Linked DNA regions of Homo sapiens. The protein of the gene in region 3 purifies or fractionates together with the protein of the main gene of each other region. This does not show direct contact. Each region holds a gene or a part of one and is shown on either strand. Other genes may lie near its edges. The genes, in order: PTER, H1-6, NPDC1 and ATP11A.

Region 1 (7,028 bases), on a different chromosome or scaffold from region 3:
GAGTGAAACAGTATTTAAAGAGATAATGGCTGAGGCTTTTCAGAAACAATGAAAGGTACATCCTTACATTCAGGAATCCCAAGGAATGCCAAGCACGCAATTAAAAGAAATTTATGACCAGGTACAATGGCATATGCCTATAGTCCCAGAACTTTGAGAGGCCAAGACGAGTGACTTGCTTGAGCTCAGGAGTTTGAGACCAGCCTCGGCAACAGGGCAAGAACCTATCTCTACAAAAAATATAAAAATTAGCCAGGTGTGGAGGCACATGCCTGTAGTCCCAGCTTCTTGGGAGGCTGAGGTTGGAGGATCACTTGAACTTGGGAGGGTGAGGCTGCAGTGAGCCAAAATCATGCCACTGCACTCCAGCCTGGGCAACAGAGAGACAGACTCTCTCTCTCTCTCTCTCTCTCTCCATATATATATATATATTTAAATTAGTAGAAATGCAGAATACTTGAACATGATAAATGATTATGTTCTAATAGACATATAGAACAATTACACTGTATAATAACTGCAGAATGCAACGCTTTTAAGAATCTAAAACATTTTATAAAATTTAAAAGTATTAGTGTAATACATTTTTGAAGGTATGAGGTACTTCACAATGTTTAAAAAGTATCATCCTTACTCAGTAAATGTGCTACATATATCCCATATCATACAAGGCAACATTATAAAATACATTGTTTTAAATTCAAATTAAGCTGTCCAAGATGTTACACCAATGAGAGTTAGAATTCAAAGTTCTCACTGGGTCCAAAGAGTCTAGTTTTCACAGTCTGATGCATTGTCTCTGTGACCAGTATATAGAAGCATGCCTCTACTTTATCAGTGCAACCAGAAGATTCCTCAAGATAGCCAAGTATGGATCTTGATACCAACCTGGTTGCCAGGAGAATTACCTTTATCCTATTATGCCTCAGTTTCCCCATTAATACTGACTTCTCTGTTCTGCTATAACTACAACTTGTTTATATTTCCTGCACATGATTTCACAGTATTTTTTATTAAGTAAAAGAATTTTTTTTTTCTTGAGACAGGGTCTTGCTCTGTTGCCTAGGCTGGAGTGTAGTGGTCATGGTTCACTGCAGCCTCATAAGGAGAGGCATTTTATCAATACATTTTGCAGGACTGTTAGTTTATGAAATAGCAATCTGTCTGGTCTGATAATCAGGATTTATCAATATGTTAATATGGCTTTACTCCAATAGGCAAGATAGAAGTAACTATAATATATTATTAGTCTCACTGGTGCTGTATTAATTCTATAATAAATTCAACTGAAGGCTAATGAGTAGCCTTAGCAACAGTTAGACTTGTTCATAAAATTAACAGCAGCTGGCATTTCTTCATTTAGTCATTCATTTTACTGTCCCCTATGCATCTAAAATAATATGTAGGGATTAAATGGTGAACCCCAACAAGATAGGTCCATATTCTAACTCTTGGAACCTCTGAAAGTGACATTATTTGGGGAAAAGGTCTGCAGATATAATTAAGTAAATGATCTGAGATGAGATTATTCTGGATTATCTGGACGGGCCATAAATCCAATGGCAACTGTGGTTGTAACAAACAGAGGAGAAGACATAGACAGTGAGGAAAAGGCTATGCGAAGACAGAGGCAAAAACTGTAGTTATGCAGCCACAAACCATGGAACAGCTGGATCTGAGGCTATGGAAGAAGCAAGGAAAGATTCTCCCTGCAGCCTTTGGAGGAAGCGGGGCCCTGACAAAGTTTCATTTCAGACTTCTGGCCTCCAGAACTTTGAGAGACTAAATTTCTGTTGTTTAGGGGCACCCAGTTTGTGATAACTTGTTACAGTAGCAATAGGAAACTAATGCATGATACTACCCAACACATGCTATACTTATTACTATTATTTTTTATAATTGCATTTTCCAAAATTCAGATGATTCAAACCACAAGTGACACAAATGTGAACATTTATATTTGCGGTTTTCTTCTCTGGGTGAAACCATTGACATTCCCTCCCTTTATATGTGTGATAACTTTATTACTCCAACTACTGGTAAACATTGAGCAAGTGGAATTGGCAGCTACTTTGATAGCATCCCATGAGACAAAGAAATGAAGTAGACAGTGACACCTGTTATGAGTTATAAAGGATTGAGTAAATTAAAGGAAATGACTTATGCGAAATATCTTATGTGAAATACCTAGGACACTATCTGACACAGAGGAGGGACACAAAAATGGCAGCATTGACTTTTATTCATGTCAGTTGTGAAACTTTATAAATACTACCTTCCATATAGTTAGTGGTTTTCTCTGCGTGATTAGTATTGCATTGACTGATTACTGTAGATTCTTAATTTGATCATGCATTAATTATATGGCAGTTTGCATCCATTTGTAAGACAGCCTACTTACCTATCCAGGTGTGACATGACTGTTTTGGAGATGTCTGCGCCTGCTTCTTGCAATATTCGGATAATCTGAAATGGTGCCCTGGAGCTCCGTCCAGGATGGATAATAACAGGACAACCAAGCTGAGCCTGGGCATGAGCTGTGGCCTGGAGAACCTTTCTTTCACTCTCAGTCAAAGGCCAGGAGCAACCAATTTCTCCAATAATGCCACACTTGATACTGGTTCCATCAGCTCCATGGAGAATTTCATTCATAAGGACATCGGTAAGCTAAGGAAGAGTGAGAAGGAATATATTTTATAGGTTGTGAAATTTATCAAAATAGATCCACCACAGTATGTGAATGAATTTATTTATTTTGTCATTCATTCTTTTAAAAATGTATTCAGTATTTATCAATTAATATTGGCCAAGGAAAAAGGCATTTTGCTGGCCAAATCAAAAATCAACAAGTTGCACTAAATCCAAGATTCGATAATATCATACCATGATTATTTAACAAGAAATTTATAGCTTTAGGAAGCTGGAGGGGGACAAAGTGACTTAATGAGAGTACATTCAGGATGAAGCAAAAAAAAATCTGTAACTTAACCTGGGGAGCAGCATCTAGAATATAGAAAGACCGCCAATGAATTGAATCTATGTCCCGTGTATCAAGTCATTCTTTTTCTTTCTTCTTTGTTTTTTTTAAAGAAGCAGAGGTCTCACCATGTTACTCAGGCTGGACTTGGAACTCCTGAGATCAAGTGAACCTCCCATTTCAGGCTCCCATGTAGCTAGGACTACACGCTTGCATCACCGCACAAGGCATCAAGAAATGCTTTAATTCTCTCCTATTTATTCCAGTCTTTTATCATAGACAGCATAGAAAATTCACAGCACACTATACTACTATTAGACTTTTGGGTTCATATGTATAGTTACCACTAAAAGTGGTTGGAAGAATATATAATCCTCATCATCAGCATAGTCTTTAAACAACAAAAATACATTAAAAAAATAAAGTCCTGGTTGGAAAATAATGCAGAAAAAATTTTGAAATACAAAATACTCCAGAGAGTAAGTGATCTTTTGCAAAGAATGAGCTGACACCCTATGCCTGTCATGCAGGCAATGGAAGATACATACGAATATATACATATATGTGTAAACATGTATAAATAGATACATGTGTGTTTAGAAAGAGAACACATACACGTGCAAAAAAGGTTTTGCACCTTATTCTTTTTGTCCCTAAACAATTTACTTCCTTCTGCCCATTCTTAAGACCATATTATGACAAAACACAGGGGAATGAATTTTCTTCCACCTCTCCTGTTTTGTGAAAGGAAACTGAAACATATTCACAAATGTGCCAAGTCTTTGACTGCCAAGTTTCACCCTACAGTGAATCTTCATTGCTGGTTATTATAAAATCCAGGGTGAAAAAAAATCGAGGTAGCATAACTTAAGATGGAAAAGTGAGGTTTACAAATAGACTGTGGTGCCAATACTGAGGACAGATACGATACACACAAATCTAACTATTATCACGTTGGATTTTGCAATGACCAGTGCACTAAGATCTCTTTCCTTGACACTTATTATTATTATTTTCTTTTTTCTTTACCACAAGGCTTGCTTGCAAAATTGGCACTTTCTTTATGAAATACAGTGTTACTAACTGGGGCCCCAACTGGCAGATGTCTTTGCTAGCTAGCAAATTTCCGTAGCATGCCCAGCTACCTCTGAACCCAGGGCATTTCCAAGGTTCTGGCTGTTCTGAATTTATGAACAAATACTGTCAAAGAACTTAGGCTTTTTACCTGCTCCACTGACATGGCCCTGGTCTCTGAGGAGTGAGTTGCATCCACATAAAACCCGGCTCCAGATATGATATGGACGCCAGTCTCTTCTGCAAGCCTCTTCAACGTCTGTGTGTCTCGGCTAATCCCAGTGGTTGTGTTTTCCACCAAAGCCCCTCCACCATTAGCTTTAAAATACAACAGTTCTTCCTTTATGGCTTCTGTCTCCTGATTTAATTGAAGGTTTTCTTTATGGGAATAGGCGTTTTTCTGAATCCAATATAAATTTTTCATCACGATAGGTTCTTTGGAAATAGCTTCCTGGCACGGGGGAGGTGGACAGTAACAGCAGTCAAAGGTCATGGCCAGGTGTTCATGGGTCAGGGTACGGCCCAGTTTGCTTGGCTCTACAAGGCCCAAAACGGTTTGGACTTTTCCACTTAAGGAAGACATTTCTGATGGTACCACCAAGAGATGTTCTAAAAAGAGGATTTCTTTTTTCTAAAAACAAACAAACAAACAAACAACTACAATCAGAATATTTAACACACACATAAACTCTTGTCCGTAAGGGGTGGGAGGCTGTGAACATATACCCATGTAAGAAGGCAAATCAATAAAACTAGAGATACGATCTCACAATCCTGCCGACTTCAGAATCTATCCCCACTGCAGATCTAAGTGACGTGCGTGGTGTTAATTGCCTCCCACCCCTTCTACTGGGAGTCCTCTGCCTGAGTTAGTCCTAACCTTATCTACTGGAAATATTCTTTGATATTCAGTTCACTTTTCTTTAACTTAATTGTATCTCTTAATCATAGCTATGCATTCTTGGATAAATCAACAGTAATTGTAATTAAAAAAAAGTATTCAGAATCAATAACTTACATCCAAACTAACCATGTATCAGTACTGTTTCATTTGTCACTTTTTAGCTAAATTAAATATCCTGAAGCAACTGATCTTTCCTCCTTTTTTTTCTTTTTGAGGGAGAGTCTTGCTCTGTTGCCCAGGTTAGAGTGCAGTGGTACGATCTCAGCTCACTGCAACTTCCGCCTCCGCCTCCTGGGTTCAAGGGATTTTCCTGCCCCAGCCTCCTGAGTAGCTGGGACTACACGCATGTGTCACCAAGCCTGGCTAATTTTTGCATTTTTAGGAGATGGGGTTTCCCTATGTTGGCCAGGCTGGTCTTGAACTCCTGACCTCAGGTGATCTGCCTGCCTCGGCCTCCCAAAGTGCCTGGATTACAGGTGTGAACCATCACTCGTGGCCACAACTGATCTTTCTACTGTTCCTCCACTACCCAAGCAAACAAATTTCTGTTGAAGGTCCATGATGTGTCAGAAATTAGAGCCATAAAGAAACAAAAGACAAGATCTCTGACTCACACGACTTCATAGAATATGCCCCTCCCCAAAACAACTGAGGAGCACACTCGGTTGAATAATGAAATAACAACAAGAAACGAACCTCTTCAGGTTGAATGCTTGATTGTCTAGGGCACACAGAAACACACTTCAAAAATACTGAAAAGCAAAGATTCTTAGCCATAATGAAAGCGATTGTGATTTATTGAAACTGAAATCGGCTATCTCTAAAAAGAGCAAAGCCCTCTCTATCCTCGATTTGCTTTCATTTGTAGCACAAATTAAGTGTTCACCAATGTCTATCAGTGATACCAAGAACTCCAATTCCAGTACTTTCCTTTAAAAGTACATTTCCTTTTAAAAAATTTGTTTAAATTAAAAATTAAATGGCCAGGTGCAGTGGCTCATGCCTATAATCCCAGCACTTTTGGGAGGCTGAGGTGGGAAGATCACATAAGGCCAGGAGTTTGAGACCAGCCTGGCCAACATGGTGAAAACCCGTCTCTACTAAAAATACAAAAATTTGCCAAGTGTGGTGGAGCGTGCCTGTAATCCTAGCTACTTGGGAGGCTGAGGCAGAAGAATTGCTTGAACCCAGGAGGCGGAGGTTGCAGTGAGCCGAGATCGCGCCACTGCACTCCAGCCTGGGAAACAGAGCGAGATTATGTCTCAAAAAAAAAAATTTTAAGTACATTTCCTAAATGAAGGGTTTATAAAGGAACAAGAGCTACTGAAAATAGTGAGGACAAACTCCTGCATGGCCAAGAGCAAAATCAGGACTCGAGTCCCAGACTCTGGGAACTGAAGAAAAGGAGCATCACGTGTTTCCAAGCTCTCAAACTGTTCCTTCAAATAGTGTTCTGAAGTCATCATTTCCCCCATATCCCTTGAAAGCCTTCTTTGACTTCCATTTTTGTCATCTGTAAATTAAAATAACGAAGCACATTTCATAGACTGTCGTAAAAATAAATTAGATACCACAGGTAAAAATACCTGTAGATGCATTTGGCACGCAGACCATATTCAACAAATAGTAGCTTTGTTTTGCGAATTCTAGGAACTATTCACGTATATCCTAGATTATTTCTTTTCAGAGAAAGTGGCTGATGAGAGGGGAGATGATTTGGGGGAACAAAGGGGAAAATTTGTGAAGGGTATAGTACACACGTAAGACAAGGTGAAAACAACATCAGAGGTCAGAGGGTGACAGAATTGTAGGCCAATTTATAGCAAGCCACTGCAATTATCTGGAACTCAGGTGTTTGCGATATATTGGCTTATAAGGCATAAATGATGGATTTAGACTTTTGGACAGAACTTAGGACTTGTGGCTAACATGGCCATTGATTTTGTTTGATAGTGCCTTTCTGGAAGCCAAACTTCTATCAGCTAGGCAATTCAAATGGTGGCTAAGAGAAAAGCAGGCAGTGTCTCTTCAGAGAATCACCACACAGCTGCCAGGCACTATACAGGGCAATAT
Region 2 (6,120 bases), on a different chromosome or scaffold from region 3:
TTTTGTAAAACCAGTAGTCTCCAACCTTTTTGACACAAGAGACCGTTTTGTGTAAGACAATTATACCACGGACCAGGGGGTGCAGGGGCTGGGAGCAATGATTTCCGGACTAAAACTGCTCCAACCTCAGATCATCAGGCATTAGATTGTCACAAGGAGCCTGAAACCTAGATCCCTTGCATGTGCCATTCACAATACAGTTTGAGCTTATGAGAATCTATCTAATGCTGCAGCTAACCTGACAGGCGGTGGAGCTCAGTTGGTTAATGTTCGCTCACCCCTCAGCTGTGCGGCTCAATTCATAACGTGCCATGGACAGGGACCGGTTACCGGTCGGTGGCCGGGGAAATGAGGACCCCTGGTATAGATGGTAGTCTGGCTATGTTGCCCAGGATGGTCTTGAAGCCTGGCCTGAATTAATTCTCCAATCTCAAGCCTTTTCAACTCAGCTGCATCACAACTTAAACCTATAGATAACTGTCACAGAAACTTGTTTCCAGTGTTACGCCATCTTAAAATAATGTGGGTGGCTCTTAAAAGAGCCTTTGGGTTCTTTCCAAATTGGCCTCCCGGAAAGCTCTTTACTTCTTAGATGTGGCCTTTCTAACATTAACTTCATGATGTTGGGTCAATTTTGACTTCGAAGCCCTTGCCTTCACTGGGCTCTTCTGCTGTTGCTTACCCTTGGCTCCTTTAGCCTTTCTCCCGCTCCTAACAGTTTTAGGAGTTGTCGCTCTCGGCTTCTTGGCTCTCTTATTGGTTTTAGCAGTCTTTGGTGACTTGGAGTCCCTGGATAAAACCAGCTTCTTGGTCTTGGCAGAAACTGACTTTTTAGCCTTGCTTCTGGTAGATTTAGGAATCACCTTCTTACTAAGCTTAAAGGAACCGGAAGCACCAGTACCCCTGGTTTGCACCAGGATTCCCTTGTTCACTAAGCTCTTGAGGGACAGTTTGATGCGGCTGTTATTCTTCTCTACGTCGTAGCCAGCAGCGGCCAATGCCTTCTTGAGCGCAACCAAAGACATACCTACTCGTTCCTGTGACACTGAAAGGGCCTCGGTGATCAACTTGGACACAGAGAGGTTCGGCACTTTGCGACTTGCACTTATCAAGCCAGCCGGCTTCCTCCCTCGCTTCTTGGTTGGAAGTTTCTCCATAGCGGCTACACCAGCACTGGCAGAAGCTGCAGGCACGGTTTCAGACATAACAACAGAGAAACGCAAGATGTAATAACCAGCGAAAAGCATGAAACACCCGGGCGGCCTCGGGGCCTTATATAGGGTAGGGCGCGCTGTGATTGGTGCATCACCTAGGCACCGCCCCCGCCCCTTGGAGGAGGAGTATTTGTGTTTGTTTTACCCGGAAAAGTTGAGTATAACAAAACCCCTCTTTACAGAATCTCCCAGGGTCTAGTGCTGAATAATCTGCGGAAATTCATATTTGACATGACTTTTCTCTTTTTAATGAAAAATGACCCTGGATGCCAAAACTATTCGAGAAAGCCCTCGATTTTCAATCAAATTCACGGAGAGGAACAAAACTTCCCCTTTTCCTTGTAAATTAATAAGTAATCTTTGGCAGAAGACTTATTTCATCTCTTCAGAGTGGTCTTCCAAATGGATAGCTTCAAATCGGTAGAGGAAAGAAATTATTCACGCCATGATTTTTATTTAAAATTATTTATATATGTGAGGGAAGTAACACAGATCTCTTAGCTGTCTAATTGCGGAGTCAGAAGATGCTTATAGAATTGTCAAAAGACTGCAGAGGATGTCTTTATTTAGGCATGTGCAATCTAATAAATCATAATCCACAGGAACATGGGTTGTCTGTAATTAAAGGTGCTCCCAAGTCCCTGTAGCTTTATAGAGGACTCTCAAGGATGGGGTAATATCAAGATCTCACACATTATGTAAGATTGGCCATAATCAGGCCACTCTCATGACCGGTGTCCTCAACTGAGTTTTGCTTCTGGTTTCATTAATTGAAGTCCCCTCTATCCCCCTGCCCACCCCTACATCCCCAGATAAACAGACACAGTCCCTCCCCTAAATTAACTATAAAACATGAGGTAGGAACCCTAGACTCAAGAACCTACTAGAAACTACAGACCCCATGTCTAACAAGACTGGGCGGGTTGGCTGGGCGCAGTGATTCATGCCTGTAATTACAGCACTTCGGAAGGCTGGAGGCCAGGAGTTCAAGACTAGGTTGGCCTGGTCCCTACTGAAAAAAAAAAAAATTAGCTGGGTGTGGTGGCACATGCCTGCAGTCCCAGCTTCTGGGTAGACTGAAGAGGATCACTTAGAGCCCAGGAGCTTGAGGTCGCAGCTACTGCACTCCAGCCTGGGCAGACCCTCATCTCTGAATTGCTTAATTAATTAACTGAGCTGGCAGATTTGGCTGCATAGCTGTGGGGAAAGGGTTGTTGGAATAATGTCCAGTGTGCTCCCCTGAGCTTCTACTGGAACAGGTCTTTGTGAGAGGCCTGGAGATAAGAGCTTGCTCACAAAGGCTGAGGCCTTTCTGGGATGCTGAATGAGTTTAGTGTGGCCAGAGCATAGGGTCTCAGCAAAGGAAAACTCCATAAGGGCCATTTGTGAAGATCCCCAAATACTTGTGTGAAACATTTGGTAGATATTAGAAGTTTTGTTTTGGTTTGGTTTGAGACAGAGTTTTGCTCTTGTTGCCCAGGCTGGAGTGCAATGGTGTGATCTTGGCTCAGTGCAACCTCCACCTCCCAGGTTCAGGCAATTCTCCTGCCTCAGCCTCCCAATTAGCTGGGATTATAGGCGCCCACCACCATGCCTGGCTAATTTTTTGTATTTTTAGTAGAGATGGGGTTTCATCATGTTGGCCAGGCTAGTCTCGAACTCCCCACCTCAAGTGATCTGCCCGCCTCTGCCTCCAAAGTGCTGGGAATACATGCGTGAGCCGCCGCGCCCGGCAGACATTGGAAGTTTTTAAGCAGAGAATTTGTTGTATTGTTGTAGTTGTCTTGGGTTTAGATTTATTGCATAAACAATCATTTTTGAGAAGGGCCCACAGTCAGAAGTTGGGAGTCTGTTGCAATAGTCTCAGAAGAATGGCAAAGACCTTGCCTAAGGGGACAGTGTGGTAAAGGAGAGAGTCTACATTTGAAATATTTCTGAAACAAAAGCCAAAAGATAAGACTTCAAACTTCTGATTGCAAAGTGAGATAGAAAAGTTTCTTTCTCTCTGTCTCTCTGTTATACCCATACACACACACATATGCACAAACACCTGAAAGAAAAAAAAATTCAGGGAACAGGCCAGGTAGGGTGGCTCATGCCTATAATCCCATAAATTTGGGAGGCTGAGGCTAGTGGATCACTAGAGCCCAGGAGTTCACAAGGCCAGCCTAAGCACATAGCAAGACCCTGTCTCTACAATTAAAAAATTACCCGGGTGTGGTGGCACGTACCTGTGGTCCCAGTTACTCAAAAGGCTGAGGTGGGAGAATCACTTGGGCCCAGGAGGTCAAGGCTGCAGTGAGCATGATTGTGCCACTGCACTTCAGCCTGGGCAAGAGCGAGACCCTGTCTCAAAAAAAAAAAATTTTTTTTTTTTTTCCAGAAAACAATACTATCTTAAGCACCAGCACTTTAGTATATTCTACTGTGGACTAGTTCATTTTTAAAAGAACACTAGGTTGGAAATCATGAGATTGATTCCACAACTCACTAAAGCACCGTGTCACTCAGTTTGGAAAATATTTCTCCTTAGAGAGATTACAGGTGCATCTTTCTGAGCACCTGTATGTTTTTACATTTGTTTGGCTTCTCTGACCTTTGATAATTTCTGAGTGTTGTACTATTAAATATTAGTGGCTAGGGGTCAAATTGTGGATCAGGTTGATCCTTATATTTACAAGTTGACAGATACGTTACTCCATTGCTTTAAAACTAACACAGAATTAGAGAATTTAGAAAATTCTTACATTCCATAATTTAAGACCCAGAAAAAAAAGATTCATATTTTGCATTAGATAGCTAAAATGGTACCATAAAAACAAATGATATCCACATATATATAGTATATAGTGCTTCTTCTGTGCCAGTCACTATCCTAAGTTTTTCTCTCCCTTCCCCAAAAATGTAGGAATTAACTTTATAGATGAAGAAACTGAGGCACAGGAATGTCACATGACTTGCCCAAAGGAAATTCAGTCTTCCTTTTTCAATTCTTTTTTCTTTTTACTTTGCTGCAGGGTCTCGCTGTGTTGCCCAGGATGCTCTTGAACTCCCGGACTCAAGCGATCCTCCTTCTTCAGCCTCTCAAAGTGCTGGGATTACAGGCATGAGCCACTGCGCCCAGTCAGGAAATTCAGTCTTCTAAACATTCATTATTGAAATAATATTTCCATAAACATTTTCTTAGATAAACTTTGGCATCTCTAACTTCTAAGTAGCAAAGTCATGGAAACAGTCACAGAGAAAATAACTTTATTTTAAAAATAATAAATTCTTATCTCCGGTGATAAGAAAAGTATACAGCCCATTTTTTAAAGTATTAATTTTACATTCTAATTTGGTTTTTTTAATGTTTACCATATATTTCTCTTTCTACATATGTGTGTGAGTGAATAAAATAAAGGCATCTACAGATTTTTACATGTTCAGTGAGATTAGCAGGGTTTCACTTGACAGCACTCTTACCATACTCACTTCTTGGCTTTTCCTGATATCTAACATTTTTAAAATGAGTAGTCCCTTTTCATATGATTCTTCCTTTTTCAAGCACTATTTTTGAACTTTATATTTGATTGGCAATAATTTTTACAGACATTATTTTACGATTAACTTTAACTCTGTTCAAATGATTTCTTCATTTTCAAGTATTTTATTTGAACTGCTTTTTTTGGTTCAACTACTGAGTATTTAATTTGTCTGTTTTGTAGAAAGGGTATGTAGATAATTCCATGTTTTGTAAAAGTTGTCTCTAAAAATCTAACAAGTGTAAGTACGATGCTATTACAGGGCTGAGAGACACAGAAAAAACACACACACACACACAAAATTTTTTTTTAAGTATTACTTGGTCTCTAAACTAAAGAATTTACCATCTATTTTGGGAGATGAAATCCAAACATAAGCAATGACAACAATTATTATGTGCTTAAATCAATGTCCAAGACAATAATTGACCCCAAGGCAGGGAAATCACTGAGAGAGTATAGCAGAGAAGGTGTCCTCTCTGTTCAGATGAGCCTGAATAATTTGTTCAGTAGGTTTCTGCTACTCATTTATAAACTGCACATCTTCTGTAGTCCTGGAAAATGTCTAAGAGGAGAGAGGAACTAAGATCAGGGCCACCATTTAATTAGGAAGTTCTGGGAGTACCTGACCCAGAAGAAAGATCAGCATAGCTGAAAATCACCCATAGGAGAAACATCTAGGTAATCTTATTTCTGTTCCACCTGACATTTCAACCTCTCTTTTCAGCTATAAGTATATAAGTACTTATATGTAAGTAAAGAAATTTACCCACATCATGTTGTTTTTTATTCAATGCTTAACATGTATAATGCTAACAACACAGACTTGATGTCCAAAACATTTCTATGAACAGCTCATTACTGGATGACTGAAATAATTTTTCCAAGCCACGTGGAGGTTAATGAGTCAGTTTTTGAAAGCAAGGAGAGAAAAACATTAGAATTTAAGGTGACGTTTCTGTTGCGTTGTAATCCAGAATACAGAATAGTCAGAGAAAAGCAGAAAGTCTTTCTTCTTAAATTTTCTGAAAACCAAGGTGTGCATTAAAATGGTACATGCCTACTTCCCTTTCCCTTTACCCTTTTTTCCTGCATGGAACATAGATATGACCCCTAGACATGCTGCAGATGACCATGAGGTTGAAAGATACATGGAAGATGGTTAACACAGGATGATAGAAGAGACCTGCATACTTGGGCAGCCTAGACAGCTCCTGCCAGCCCCCAACAAAACAGCCTAGCCTTCTTGCCAATCAAGAAAAAAAATCCCTTCTGGTAACCCACTGTAAGTGAATTTCTGTAAATGTGGCCCAATGTATCCATAATTGATATACAAATATTAGTTTAGTGGGTAGCACCTCTCCATGAGCATGTCGACTTCA
Region 3 (6,835 bases):
CCCGCCCCCGTCACCCCCCGAGCTGGCCGGGCCTGGTTCTGGCCATTGTTCTGGACATGCCCTTCCTCCCTGACGCCAGGGCTCAGAACCCGGAAGCGAACAGTCCTAGGACTTATCAGAACTACCCTGCCCCACCCCTCCCCAGGGTCCACTTCCAGGCCTGATAGAGCCCTCAGCTCAGAAGCTGAGTCTCGCCGTCCAGGCAGTGCTGAGTTCTCCTGGGCAGGGCCGTGCAGCCCCACAAGCCCAGCCTCCGGCCTCAACATGCCCCACAGCAAGCCAGGAACCCCGTCCAGATTGGGAGTCCCAGAGGGAAGGGCCCAGGTCTGTCTCTGGGGAGCAGCAAACGATGCCGCCAGCGACCTCTCCTTCCCGTGCGGCTCTCCCCAGAACCCGGCACTGACAAGTGTGCAGCCTGGAAGGGATGCTGCTCCTCCAGCCTCTGGCTTGTCCCCCAGGCACCGAGGACACCTAAGATGGAGTCTGCTGACCTCACTGGCCTCAGACACAGAACCCAGGCAGGTCACTCCCAAAGCCACCACACCAGGGGCTGCAGTCAGGGGCCAGGTGGCACCCGAGGGCCTCAGGAGGCCGAGGTTGGCAGTGCTGGGGATGGCAGGCCAGGCCCTAGTTCCCTAGTTCCTAACCACACTTTCATCTCGCTGATGAGGGGCCCAGGCCACGGTGCCAGCTGACACATGTGGCTAATCAGTCTTATCCTGGTGCTGGAGAACGGGGCGAGGGGGCAATGGCCCTCTGCCTCAGTTTCCCCTCTGGGATATAGCTGAGTTGCCTCAAAGCTAAGGAATGTCCCCAGTCACAGCAAGCCAGTGGAGCCAGGGGAACCCCAGCAGGGCCATCAACCCTGCCTGGGGAGTCTGCGGTGGCACCTCTGGCTAACCAGGACTCTTCCTCTCTGCCCAGCCCCACACTGCACACTGCAGGCAGGGCCACGGGGGCCACACGGGGCATCATCCTTCTCCAGACCTTGGTTGGCTGGTTTGGTTTCCTTGGTAACCTGACACTCAGGGCCCTCAGGCTGTCCGCCTTCCTTCAAGGCAGTTCCAGCAGCCGCAGTGGCAGGTGGGCACAGGAGCCAACGCCAGGCACCGCACACCCTCCACAACCTGGGGCAGCAGCCTCCAGTATCAGTGGGCCGGGACTTGGGCACGTTAAACATTAAACCTGTGCCAGCAGGTCCACCTGGGCCCACCCGCCAACTTGGCACCTGGGGAGTGAGGCAGTCCCCGCTCCTGTGCTGATACCCCACCGTCCACCACGCCAAAGGCAGGGGCCTGAGGTACAAAGCTGGCTCTAGGGTCTGGGTTCCAGGCCCCTCCTAGCCCTTTTCCCCAGCCCAGGAGCCTCCATCCCCCACTTCCTCCTCCTGAAAAGAGGTCGCAGGAACAAGAGCAGCTGGACGGTGGCTGGCACACCCCCCTCCACCCGCCAACGTCTGGGCTGCCTGAGGGCCCTCCCTTCCAAGCACTGGGCACTGGGAATGGGAGGAGTTGCCTAGGGAGGGCCCTGCCAGGTCTCCCGGTGAGGCAGACACGAAGCTGCAGAGGCCGGTGAACTGAGGACTGGCACCTGCCACCCACCCGGGCTCAGCACAGCAGCTGCAGCCCCGTTTCCTGAATAGGTGGCCTCCGCCTTTCCTGGCTGAGCACACTCTGATTCTCGGAAGCCTCTCCTGTTCATGCCCACCTCCCATCCAGGGGCACTGAGCCCAGGAGGAAGCCGGCCTCACTCTGGCCCCTTGAGGCCACACACACAGAACCAGGCTGCCCAGGACAGCGCCTCAGCTGTGCCACAATCCACTTAACTTCTCCATGCCTCGGATTCCTTGCCTGTAAAACGGGCTCACAGCACCTCTTCTGCAGGGCTGCCAGGAGTACTGTACGAATGCAGTCGCAAAGTCTCCCAGTTCAGTCCCCCCAGAAAAACGTCAGCTTTGCATCCTGGGTTCCTGCAGGGAGCTCTGCTCTCTGGACCCTCAGGACCCATCTGTGCAGGTGAGAGGGTGTCCCAGGACCCTGGGCTTATCACCCTCCTCCGGAGTCCACCTGCAGCCCTCAGTCCCAAAGACAGAATGCCAGTGCCCTCGAGGGCAGGGGATGCAGGCGGAGGCTCTGAGGCTGCAACAGTCTCCCTCCTATTGAAGCTAGAACAGCACCCCGAGCCTGCGCCATAAGTGCCCCCAGAACTTCAGCGCCCACCATGGCGCACAAGGCCGGTGCCCAGCGCCACCCAAGGCGTGAGGACAGGCAGAGCAGCACTGAGGCCCCGACCCCGGGACGCGCACCGGCAGCGAAGCCGGCGGGCACTCAGGGCCAGCCCCACACCCGCAGGAGCCCCGAACACGGAGACACAGAGACGCACACAGGCAGACTCCCGGCGGGCCCGCCCAGAGCCAGATGGCCGCGGCGCGGAGGCCTGAGCCAGACGCGCTCCCGGCGGAAGAAGCCATGAATGTAAGGTACGCCTCTGGGAACCGGCAGAAGCCCCATCCGGCGCGGCCTTTTGGAGGCTCCGCGCTGCGCCCTCCGGCCAGGCCTGTTTATTCCATCGTGGGCGAGGCGGGGCCCCCGCCACCAGCGGACCAGGCCTGCAGGGCCTGCGGGCCTGGGCAGGACGAGGGCGGCGGCGCCCGGCAACCCGGTCCCCGCCCGGCGATCCCGGCCCCGGGGCGCCCCGCGGCCTGCGCCCAGCGCGCTCGCTCACCCGGGTGGCCGGCGGCGGCTCCACGCAGGGCGGCGCCGAGGACGAGGCCGGAGAGCAGCAGCCGCAGCAGCCGCAGGTGCCGCGGGGAGGGCGGAGGCAGCGGCGTCGCCATCCTTCAGCGCCGCCGCCGGGGCAGCATGGCACCGCGAGGCCAGGGGCTCGGCGCGGGCTCCGGGCTCCGCGTCGGGAGCAGCGGAGGCAGCGGGGGAGGACGCAGGAGGAAGAAGAGGCGGATGCCAAGGAGGAGGAGGAGGAAGAGGAAAGGCACGGGCGGCGGCGCTGACGCTGCAGCAAGGATCCGGGATGGAGGCGCCGGCGAGGCGCGCACGCGGAGACTGCGCCTGCGCGCTCCACCTGAGGGGGCGGGAGGGCGGCTCCAGACTGCGCCCCCTCCCCCTGCTCCAGTTCTGGTCCCCTCTCCGGGCCTCGCTGGACCTCTCTCGGCCTCAGGGTGTCTCGGCACCTGCGGTCTCTGGGGCCGGTGCGGTTCCCAGAAGTCCGGCTGGGTTTGGGCCGCGGGTGGGCTTCTCCAGGATGCGCTCCCTTCTGGCCTCTTCCCGGTAGGACTCCGAGCCCCTCACCCGCACCCGCGATGGGGCAGAGGACCTGTGTGGGCCTAGCCTCGCGAGCGCACAGAGACACAGGAGCGCCGGGCGCACGCAGACAGGTGCTCACGAGCTGGGCAGGTGCACAGGAAGGCACAGGTGTGCCCACAGAGGCAGGGGCACCCCCACTCGCGGGAAAAGCAAATACAGGAACACAGAACGGCCCCGGCCCCGACTGCAGCTTTGGCTGGAGCCGCGGCGGCCGCGCTCAGTGAGGCCACCAGGGGGCAAGAGTGATCCGGAGCCACTGAGGACCGGAGCTGGGAGCTGTCCAAGGTGTTCAGGGTCCCCAGGTGACAGCCCTTTAGCTCCCTCAGGACAATGGGCATCTTTTTTTTTTTTTTTCTTTGAGACAGCGTCTCTGTCGCCTAGCCTGGAGTGCAGTGGTGCCATTTCGGCCCACTGCAACCTCCACCTCTCGGGTTCAAGTGATTCTCGTGCCTCTGCCTCCTGAGTAGCTGGGATTACAGGCGCGTGCCACCATGCTGGGCTAATTTTTGTATTCTTAGTACAGACGGGGTTTCACCATGTTGCCTCAGCTGGTCTTGAACTCCTGACCTCAGGTGATACGCCAGCCTCAGCCTCCCAAAGTGCTGGGATTACAGGCGTGAGCCACTGTGCCCAGCTGACAACGGGCATCTCTGATGCCCCCCTTGCACCTCACCTGTTGCCTCCCAAGAGCACGCCCACCCCATCCCACTAGAAACCTCCTTTGACTAGTCATTCAGAGAACAAGAGTGAGACCTCCAACCCGGGGTGTCCCCTTGGTCCTTCCAGTCTCAGAACTCCAAAGCTGGGGCTGGCTGCCCTCAGGTTTATCAAATGACTTTAAAAAAAAATGGTGAAGAGGGGAGGGAAGAGCAGAATAAGAACCACCACCCTCCTCGCCAGGGCACTGAGCATAGAGACAGTGTCTAAGCTCACTTCCCAGGAAGGTGAGGAGGCGAGTGGGCAAGACCAGGCCTTCCCATCCTGGAGAAAACTGGCTTGGGGAGGGGCTGCAGGGCCTGGCTGGGGCTGCAGGATGCCTTTTGGAGGTGCAGGACACTCAGTCCCAGGTGAGAAGGGCAAGGTGCCCTGTGCCATTGCATGGCTCAGCTCCACAGCCAGGTTCTGTGCAAGATTCCTGCCTATGGGTCCTGGTCCTGATCTCATCTCCCACCCCTGTGCCACCTCCTGATGTGGGCCTGCCCTCCCGCCAGTCTCTACCAGCACTGACTGCCCCCTAGGAAGCCGCCTGGCTGGCTGCCACCCACTCTCCGCCACCTCCCTGACCTCTACCCTCACCCCCAGGCTCACTGTACCAGGACCCAACCTTCAGTCTGGCCTTGGTCACCAACGCAGATCTGGATGTGATGGTTTTGGGGAACTCTGCTGGCCAGAGAAGACTCAAGGGCCCAGGAACATTCCCTCGGGCCAGCCATCCTGCAGCTACTCTAGGCTGCCACGGCACACCAGGGCAGCAGCCAGTGCCCCAGGCCTGGCTCCAGAGCAGAAGGCAGTAGGGAGGGATGGTGTCCACCCTCAGGACCAAGGGCAGGCCCGTGCGGCTAGAACAGCGGGAAGGTGGGGGCACAGGCCACAGCAAGGATGCCCCACCCCACAGACACTCTCCTTTCACGTCTCTAGGAAAAACTTTTTATTACAAAATTTTTACAAGTAGGTGCTGGGCTGGCTGCCAGCCCGTGGGCTGTGACCCTCCCCAGTACAGACCCAGACTACACAGAAGGAGCCTCTAAGGGCTGATTCTCAGGACCAAGGCCCCACTCTCTGGAGACCCAGCCCTGAGGAGGAGGAGGAGGAGCACGGGGCCTGCAGTGATGCCCAGGCTGAAGCGGGCTGGAGGGGTTCAAGGAGCTGGATTGAGCGCTCTTTGCCCACCCAGGCTCCTGTGGGTACCAGAGTCTCAGTTCCTATTTCCTGGGCTGCCTTAGGGGCAGAGACGCTGAGGGTGGGGTGGAAGGATGGAGAAGACAGTGGTGGGGTGGAGCGGTGGGGGATAGAGGGTGGGTGGAGGAATGCAGGATACAGGGGCGGGGAGAGAGGTTGGGAGAGGGGTGGGTGGAGGGGTGGGGATACAGGGGTGGGAGGTACAGGGGTTGTGGGAGGGGTGGGAGTACGGGGTGGGGATACAGGGGTTGGGGGAGGGATGGGGCAGCTGCCCCCGTCGGCCCCTAAATGGTGCTTGGCAGCTTGGCGGAGTGCACCTGACGCAGCAGCAGGACAAGCGCAGCCAGGAGCGCGGAGGCGAAGAGCAGCAGGAGGACGACCCAGGAGCTGAAGTCTGTGCCCTTGCGCAGCCCCGGCGGGTCGGCGGGGATCAGGTTGGTCAGGTTCAGCATGTAGCCGAGCGCCCAGCCCACTGCAGTGTCCGCGGCCTGCGGGGAAGGGCGTGGCCTCAGCTCCCGAGAGGCCCCGCCCCGCAAGGTCGGCCCCGCCCCGCCCCGCCCCAGCCCACCTTCTTCTGGAAGATCACGCCGCCGAAGGCGCGCTCGTCGAAGCCGTAGCCGCGACTCAGCAGCTGCTGCACGAACATGGCCCCGGCGCAGTAGTCGGCCAGGCGGGCCCGTTGCCCTGGCACCCGAGCTTGCAGCTGGGACGCGGGCGGGACACCGTCAGGCAGGCGACCACCAGGAGGTCTCGGCCCCACGGGGAGAGGGGGCCGGCGGCGTGCTTCACCCCTCCCCAGACACACACGGGCCGTGCGAGGCCAGAGACCACCACACAGGCCCGGACACGAATGGCAAGACCGAGTCCGAGGGGCACCCCCGGCAGGGCACGCTTCCATCCCTCCCCAGCCAGCGCCCATGCCTGGAAGGCCAGTGAGGAGGGACAGCAGGCATGGCCACCAGGGAGCAGGAGGCAGCAACACCTTGGTGTGTGGCCAGGGGAACAGGACGAGCTCCAGGCCTGAGTCTGCCCGCTGGCTCGCCGCCTGTCCCCACCTCCCTCACCCCAGTCTGTCTGAGACTAGGCCCTGGGAGGACAAAATGGGGCCTCGCTCACCACCCCGGTCCTGGGACGACTCGTACGTTTCTCTTGGAGTCTCCGGTGGGCACACTCCCGGTGCCCAGACCCACTTCCATCTTCCCTTGTGTGGTACCATGGAGGGAACCAGTGGCAGAAGCCAGAAACCTGGGCACCGGCCTCCCCCTGCCCTCCAGATCTGGGATGAGGGTCGGGCCTGGCGAAGCTTCTCCAACCCGCCCGACTTGTTCACAGCCTACCGGCCACAGCCACGCCACCTCTGGAGTCAGCCTAATGCCTGCCATCGCCCCCACTGCAGCGGGTGCTCCGAGAGGCCTGTCCATGCAGGGCTGGGGAGGCATGCGGAGGCGGAGGCTGAGCCCTTCCGCACAGCCCTGAAGGAGTGGGAGCGGGGCTCACCTGAGCCCAGGTCTGGTTGCAGACATTCACTGCGGCTGCCTCCAGCTGCTGCAGGGTGGCCACGGGCAGCCCCATCGAAGTCCGCAAAAAGTCCACAGTGTAGAAGAAGGCAGAGAAGG
Region 4 (6,913 bases), on a different chromosome or scaffold from region 3:
TAGCCACCCTCACACATCAGAAGGAGCTGGAAAGCTTTCTTTGTCCCAGGAATTCTGACTATGTGAACACCAAGAAGGAACAGGGTCTATTTATCTATCCTTTTTAATAAAGTAAGTCACATAAGGAAACCATGAGGAAATATGAGTATTCAATCCCAGACTCTTTTTTCTGTAGCAAAAGGAAATATAATTTAGTCCTACATAGTGGACGATAACGCAATTACAAGAAAACAGATCATGACTGTTTCTGGAAAAAGTCAAATTAGTTTAATACCATAGACATGAACTTAAAATGATAGAGATGAATGGCTCTGTGTGTAAATATGGGTGAGGTAGCCAGATGAATACACTGCAAAAAACACAGGTGGAATGAGAAAAACAGAAATAATATTATCCCACAACTCGTATTCCCGAGACGTTATCCAATAATGTATATGCTGGAAAAGTTCACTAAAGAATATTTACCGCTTAGATTAAAAGAAAATGTGATGCCATAAGCGTAATAATACAGCAAAGGGGAATTAAAAATGCAAGCTACGCAAACACTTATATAGATCTATATAACAGAAAACAGCTGAAGGCCTGGAGAAAGGGAGTCAAGCATCAAAATTGGACGTCTGTCTGTCCCCCTCCCAAGATGAAGGGGTCAGAAACCGGCTGGGAAGGGGGGATTCTCCAAAGGGTGAGCCGGGCTGGCCCATCCATCTCTCATTTCTATGGAAAGAGGCTGCACATTAGCCCCACAACGTGACCCTCCTTTTTAACACTGAGTGTTAGAAGGGAACGGAATGAACTGGGAACACCGCGGGCAAAGTGAGTGTTAGTCCCTTCCCTCTTCCATTTCGCTCGAAGGAAACAAAGCAGGAAAATAAGGTGTCTAGGGACCCACACTTCTGAGCGACACAACTGAGAACAGAAGCTTCCGCCCAATAAAGCATTTCTCTTACACTGCAGGTTACCTATAGTCACTGTGATTGGGTCTTCTATAACGTTACCACAGTGAAACACAGGTTTACCACTCACATTAGGATTTGAACTGGGGGCTCGAGCACCAGTGAGGGAGTAACACAAGGCTCCTGGAGCCAAGCCTTTCAAGATCTAGCATCGGAATCATCAGAATCACCAGGGGTGAGTTCTCTCCACTTAAGTAAGTCAGGCTGACCTTCCTAAGGCTTCCCCGAGATCAGGAAACGATGTAAGGTGCACTCAAGTCTCCTTGACTCTCCGAGGTTTTTGGTTAATAAATAAATCCGGGGGAAAGCATTGATCTGGCATCCCCCACTGAAAAGAAACCTATCTATCTTTGGCCAAGGTCTCCTATTTAAAGAAGGCTCATAAATATGAAAGGCTGCCTGAGGTAATTCCTATGCCGGGAAAGAACAAAGTTCCCATAATACTGCCCTCTCTAGTATCAAACCCGGTGCATGCGACTTCTCGAACCTGTGATTGACCAGTGACCGCCAGCCTCTATGGAACAATGAAGCCTCTTGTGCAAGACAGTGGCAGGAAACGCTGTGCTTGGGACAGTTTTCTTCCTCTCCTACACACACACACACACACACACACCCTTTTTTTTTTTTTTTTTTGATACAGAGTCTCGCTCTGTCACCCAGGTTGGAGTGCAGTGGCTCGATCTCGGCTCATTGCAACCACCGCCTCCCGGGTTCAAGCGATTCTCCTGCCTCAGCCTCCTGAGTAGCTGGGATCCCAGGCGCCTACCACCACGCCCGGCTAATTTTCGTATTTTTTAGCAGAGACGGGGTTTCACCATGTCGGTCCGGCTGGTCTCAAACTCCTGACCTCGTGATCCGCCCGCCTCGGCCTCCAAAAGTGCTGGGATTACAGGCGTGAGCCACCGCGCCCGGCCACACACCCCTTTTTACACCTAACGCCAGGGATTCCGGTTTCCCCTCCTCTGGTGTAAAACAAAATCAACTTTTCCCCTTCCGAGTCTTCCCTCCTGAGCTCTTCACTTGCTTATCACTGAAGGGGCAAATTCCAGAGGAACCCAAGAAGACCCCGGACTTCTGATCTAATTGGTTACTTTAAGGTAAAAAATAAAAAGATTCCAAACTCCGCTTCTGAATCCCCCAGGGGTGTTAAAGAACAAACACAATTGCTACCTTTTTCTGCAGAAGTGTAACGCTTCCTCCCAATCCCTTAATCTTACAGACACGGCTGCGCGGAAGCCGCATCTGAAGGTTCCTCCCCAGACCCGGGCCCCGGCGGGGTCGAAGTTGGCTCCCTCCGGGCGCCCGGTCCGCCGGGACAGCTCGAACCCCAGCCAGCCTCTCCGAGGGACCCCCAGGGCGCTGCGGGCGGGAAGGGGGCGCCAGGCGGCCGCGGCCAGGGAGCAGGTGGCCGCCCGGGGCTGGGGCCCCGCGCTGTGCCCACCTAGACCCCGTCGGAAGCCCCAGGGTGTCAACTCCGAGGCCCCTCCCCAGCATCCCGCTCGTCCCCGGGGGCGGTCCGAGTCCCAGACATCGGAGACCTCCCGGGACCCCGGGGCTGGACCGGCCACAGGGTCCGGGCTGCGGGGCCGGCCCGCGTCTGTCTGGTCCCCGGGTCCCCCAGCCCGCGCCGGGAGCACTCACGTATCTGTGCACGAGCGTCCGCACGAGGCTGCAGTCCATGGCTCCTCCGGCCGCTCCCGCTCCGCCGTTCAGCGCCCCCGCGCCCGGCTCGGCGCGCCCATGGGCTCCGGGGTACTAGTGCGGCCGCGCCCCCCGCTCCGGTCACGGCCTCGGCGCGCCGGGCGGTGCAGGGGGCGGCCGCGGCCCCTCCGCGCTCATGCCCGGCCCGGCCGGCGAATGCTGGGTCCGCGGCCCCGCGCGTCGGCAGCTGCTCCACTGGCGGCAAGGCTGCTGCTCGGGGCCGCGCGCGCGCGCTCTGGCGCCTTCTCTCTCCCCGTCGGTCCGCCCGCTCGGTTGGGCTCGGCTGGAGCACCCCGGCCGCGGCGGAGCCTGCGCTCTGCTCCTCCCGAGTCTCCTCCTCCCCTGCCCGCCGCCCTCTGGAGCCTCCGGGCCCCGCTGGCTCCTGCCCCTGCTCCGGGCGCGCACGTCACCGGCGCAAGTGAGCATGCGCCCCGCGGCCGCAGCCCCCGCCGGCCCCGCGCCCACACCCGCGCTCGCACCCGCGCGCCGGCCCTGCCCCCTCGCGCCTCCGCCCGGGCCCCAGACCCTGGGGGCAGAGGGCAGAGGGCAGAGGTCAGAGGCCGCGGGGAGGAACCCCCCTGTTGCTTCCGCCTCCCGGGGCGCAGGCGCTGGGCGCGGCGGGGAAGGGACTCGGCACTGGGGAAACCCGGAGTTTCAGCCAGGGTCCCAGGGCTTCCTTCCCGGGTTCCTGCCGGAAAACTTTTCTCCTCCGCCCGGAAGCCTCGATGGGGCAGTGAGATCGCGGGGCGAGGTGGGAGTGTGGGAGGGGGCCGCGGGCAGAGAGCGGGAGTCCGGCTGGGTGGGAGATCTCCTGAGCCGAAGCTGGGTCTCGCCCCAGCGTGGCGCCACCGACCCGCAGGCTTTTCCTGCTCTGCAGATGGAGAGACACAGGGACGCTCCTCAGGTGGCTGCCCTGGGCTGCCAGCCTGTCAGTGGGAGGGGAGGGTGCAGACAAGAGGCCCCTGTTTCCGAAACCCCTCTGTCCCCAAAGCTGCGACAGCAGAAGACACTTAGGCGGCCTGAGGGGTTGGTGAACCACAGAGGAGCTCAGCTTCGCCTGGTCTCCAGCTCCCGGTGGCGGTGGCGTGTCCTTAATGCTGCTGGCTTTGAACTGGACTGAGAACTATTTACCACACAAACACCACCATTTCAATCCCGGAGAATGCCTGTTTTCCCTAGGGTGACCTGGCCGGGGTAACAAACACTTGTTCTCTAATTCCACGGTCAGCCTTGACTTAATTGAGGTACTTGATTTCCAACTTCCTGTCTTGCTGCCACAGATAATCACTGATGAAACCAAACAGGCAACACCTTTTGGTGGCCTGTGGAGAGCGCTGCCCCGTCTGGGTCTTAGGAAGGCAATTGAATATGAATGTTCTCCCGAGTGCTTGTGGAAAAGAGATGGTGTTGGCCACTTTTTAGACGAAGAGAAATGAGTACTAGTGAACACTAATCATAGTGACTAAACAGTAAACGGCTCCCATTTGTTGTCGGCTAAAGCACTGATTCTTCATTTTCCATCCCAGCCTGTCCTGCTCTGGCCTGCCCTGTGCTCAGGAAGCTGGCGGTCCCCCTCAGTGGATCTTCACCCACAGGGACAACCTGCTGCAGACCGGGTAGGAGGGAGGCAGGGGCCTCTTCCCCTCTCCTTCCTGGCCTGGCCCCACACCCACCAGTGTTGGTTTCACTCTGTGGCTACGATTCTTCCTGGGTGCCCTTTCCATTGCACAACTCCTCTAGGCTCTACGAACAGAACTTCTCCCCGCCCCCAAGCCTCTTAGGGTGAGACATGTTGTCGGTCTGCCATTGTTGCTGGTCCCTAAATAGCAGCACCCTTTGAAGGATCCTTGAACCATGACCACACCGCAACAAAGAGTCCTTCATCAAACTCGCTTCCAAATCCCCTCCCAAGAACACCTTCAGTTTCCTGCAAGAACCCTGACTGCTGAAGCCGGATTTTGACTAAGCTTCTACCTTGTAAACCGTGACTGTGGGATTGGGGTCGAGGCGCAATCAGAGGTTGTATAAGGCACTAGATCAAGGCTGCCTGTCTGTCAGGAGTGTCTGCTTTATTCAGTAGTAAATGTGAATTGTTTTTCATTCTGTTGTGAATACTGTTGGTTGACAATGCAGCAGCCATGCCCTCTCTATCCTTGCTGGTTCAGGTATCCACTCTGTGTGGCTAAGGGTAAACTCTGTCTCTTGAGAAAATCTTGGTAACTCCATTTCTCTTTCCAACAATTGGCTTCAAACAAGCTCAAGTCAATGAGTCCCAACAGGAAGCCTGCTGGGGGTTGTCTGGCAAAGGTTTTCTCACTCCTACAGGAACATAAAGAGGAAATGCTCCTTTTTCCCTGGTGAATGTTGCATTCCCTGTCTGGATGCAATGCCTGGTGCTCCGCAGCCCTTTGCACTTATAAGAGAAGGTGGCCGGAAGAGCATCTTCACCCTGGGGTGGCCGCCTGGGAAGATGAGAAGAGCAGGAGTCCTTGGTGGCACAACCAGGCAATTCACCAAAATCCTGCTGCCCTCACCTGGAATTTCCTGCTATGAGAGACGTCTCCGTTTAAACCACATGAGCTGGATTTTCTGTTTCTAACACATGTCAGCATCTTCACGGTAAATCTAAGAAAAAAAAATCAGGGCTATTAAAAAACAAAGTCCAACTCACCCTGTGCTATGGTCTGAAGGTGTCCTCCCAAATTCACACGTGGAAACCTAATCCCAAATACCTGATACCTAATCCCAAATATTAAGAGGTGGGGGCCTTGGGAGGTGGTTAGGAATGGGATTAGTGCCCTTTAAAACTGAGGTTTTTGGGAGCCTGCTTGCCCTTTCTGCCATATGAAGATGCTTAGAAGAGGCCTTCTATGAAGCAGAGAACTTTTCTCAGATGCCAGATCTGCTGGGACCTTGATCTTGGATTTCTCAGCCTTCAGAACTGTGGGAAGCAAACTTCTGTGTGTATGAATAGCCATCTAAAGGATTTTGTTACAGCAGCCTGAGCAGACTAAGACACCCTGTGAGTCAGTTATTTTTGGCTGTGTCACGAGTGACCGCGAGTGCAGGAGCTGAAACGGCAGTGAGTGGGTTACCATTTCTCAGGACCCTGCGGAATTGGTGCGATGGTGCTTCTGCTCCACCTGTTGTTGGCTGGGATTGTCCTGCAGCTGCATTCTTCTGGGGGTCAGCTGGGGCTGGAAGCTTCCTGTGGTCTAGTCACACAGCTGGGGTCTCAGCTAGGGTGATAGAACACTGGGGGCAGGCCGGCCTTGCTGTCTCTCTCTGGCTTCTCATCATTCAGTGGTCTAGCCTGAGTTTTTTACATGGCAGCTCAGGAGGGTCAATGTGGACGCTATACAGCCTGTAAGGCCCGGGTTTGGAAGTCCAAGAATATGACTTCTACCATGTTCTACTGGTGAATATAAATTCCAAGGCCAGCCTAGATTCAAGGGATAAGAACGTAGATTTCACTCCTTGATGGGAGGATCCCATGTACAGACAGGGATCCTTATGAGGGATTATGAGAACTCCTAATCCTTATGAGGGATTATCATACAGAGAATTTATGGGGGATTATCTTTGGAAATAATCTACCATAGACTGAATAAATGATAATGTAATGTGTTGGTGCCCCTCCCAGTGCATTCAAAAGTGAAACGACTGCCAGAACTCCAGGGCCTGCAAGTTTCTTCCTTCACATCTAAGCAGAAGGAGAGACTTCACAGTGACGTGCCAGCTAAGTCACGTGCCCACTCCTGCCCAGTCTGTCACGCAAGTAGCAGAGTCCCTGAGATGATTGGCTTAGGCCCGAGGTCAGTGCACATCACCAAACTAGTAAGTGTCCAAGGGGAATGAAATTGTCTTCGCCTCAAATAACCAGGACCTACCCCTGACCCACTGCGAGCACAGCTGCTTCACAGTGCTGGAGGGATGGGATGAATGAGGAGGAGGCAACAGCTAGGAGGCCAACCCCAAGACTTGAAATTGTGGGTTTGCAAATGGGTGCTTCAGGTGACACCCTGGCCACACCCTCACCTACACACAGACTCATAAACACCTATCCTGCATTCCTCCCTCCACCTTTCTTTCCAAAGAAATCTTGGATTCATTGGCCCCTAAGTGAAAAAAACTGGGGGGAAATAAGGGAGTGGGGGCAAAAAAATGAGGTCTTCCTGCAAAGACAGTTCAGAAGAATTGTTGCACCGAGACCTGAAATGACAAACCCAAAGCCAGAGCCAACTGCTGTAGACACAGAA

What was found.
Region 1: the proteins of NPDC1 (region 3) and PTER purify together in Homo sapiens (affinity purification with mass spectrometry; 3 studies listed by BioGRID and IntAct, with this or other methods). This does not show direct contact.
Region 2: the proteins of NPDC1 (region 3) and H1-6 purify together in Homo sapiens (affinity purification with mass spectrometry; 3 studies listed by BioGRID and IntAct, with this or other methods). This does not show direct contact.
Region 4: the proteins of NPDC1 (region 3) and ATP11A purify together in Homo sapiens (affinity purification with mass spectrometry; 3 studies listed by BioGRID and IntAct, with this or other methods). This does not show direct contact.

What each region holds. Positions count from the first base shown.
Region 1 is NC_000010.11:16,481,991-16,489,018, reverse strand, and holds part of PTER (N-acetyltaurine hydrolase), read right to left. Parts: intron 5,882-7,028; exon of another isoform or gene 5,085-5,881; coding exon of another isoform or gene 5,070-5,084; intron 4,683-5,069; coding exon of another isoform or gene 4,635-4,682; coding exon 4,203-4,634; intron 2,668-4,202; coding exon 2,402-2,667; intron 1-2,401. UniProt on the Homo sapiens protein: N-acetyltaurine hydrolase that regulates feeding by catalyzing the hydrolysis of N-acetyltaurine into taurine and acetate. N-acetyltaurine has anorexigenic and anti-obesity effects that are dependent on GFRAL receptor and GDF15.
Region 2 is NC_000006.12:26,106,889-26,113,008, forward strand, and holds H1-6 (histone H1t), read right to left. Parts: upstream 1,248-6,120; 5' UTR 1,206-1,247; coding exon 582-1,205; 3' UTR 524-581; downstream 1-523.
Region 3 is NC_000009.12:137,043,154-137,049,988, forward strand, and holds the start of NPDC1 (neural proliferation differentiation and control protein 1 precursor), read right to left. Parts: upstream 3,025-6,835; 5' UTR 2,837-3,024; coding exon 2,725-2,836; intron 1-2,724. Other genes in the region: ENTPD2 (ectonucleoside triphosphate diphosphohydrolase 2), read right to left, coding at 5,504-5,707, 5,788-5,922, 6,717-6,835. UniProt on the Homo sapiens protein: Suppresses oncogenic transformation in neural and non-neural cells and down-regulates neural cell proliferation. Might be involved in transcriptional regulation.
Region 4 is NC_000013.11:112,686,137-112,693,049, reverse strand, and holds the start of ATP11A (phospholipid-transporting ATPase IH), read right to left. Parts: upstream 3,013-6,913; 5' UTR 2,634-3,012; coding exon 2,595-2,633; intron 1-2,594. UniProt on the Homo sapiens protein: Catalytic component of a P4-ATPase flippase complex which catalyzes the hydrolysis of ATP coupled to the transport of aminophospholipids, phosphatidylserines (PS) and phosphatidylethanolamines (PE), from the outer to the inner leaflet of the plasma membrane.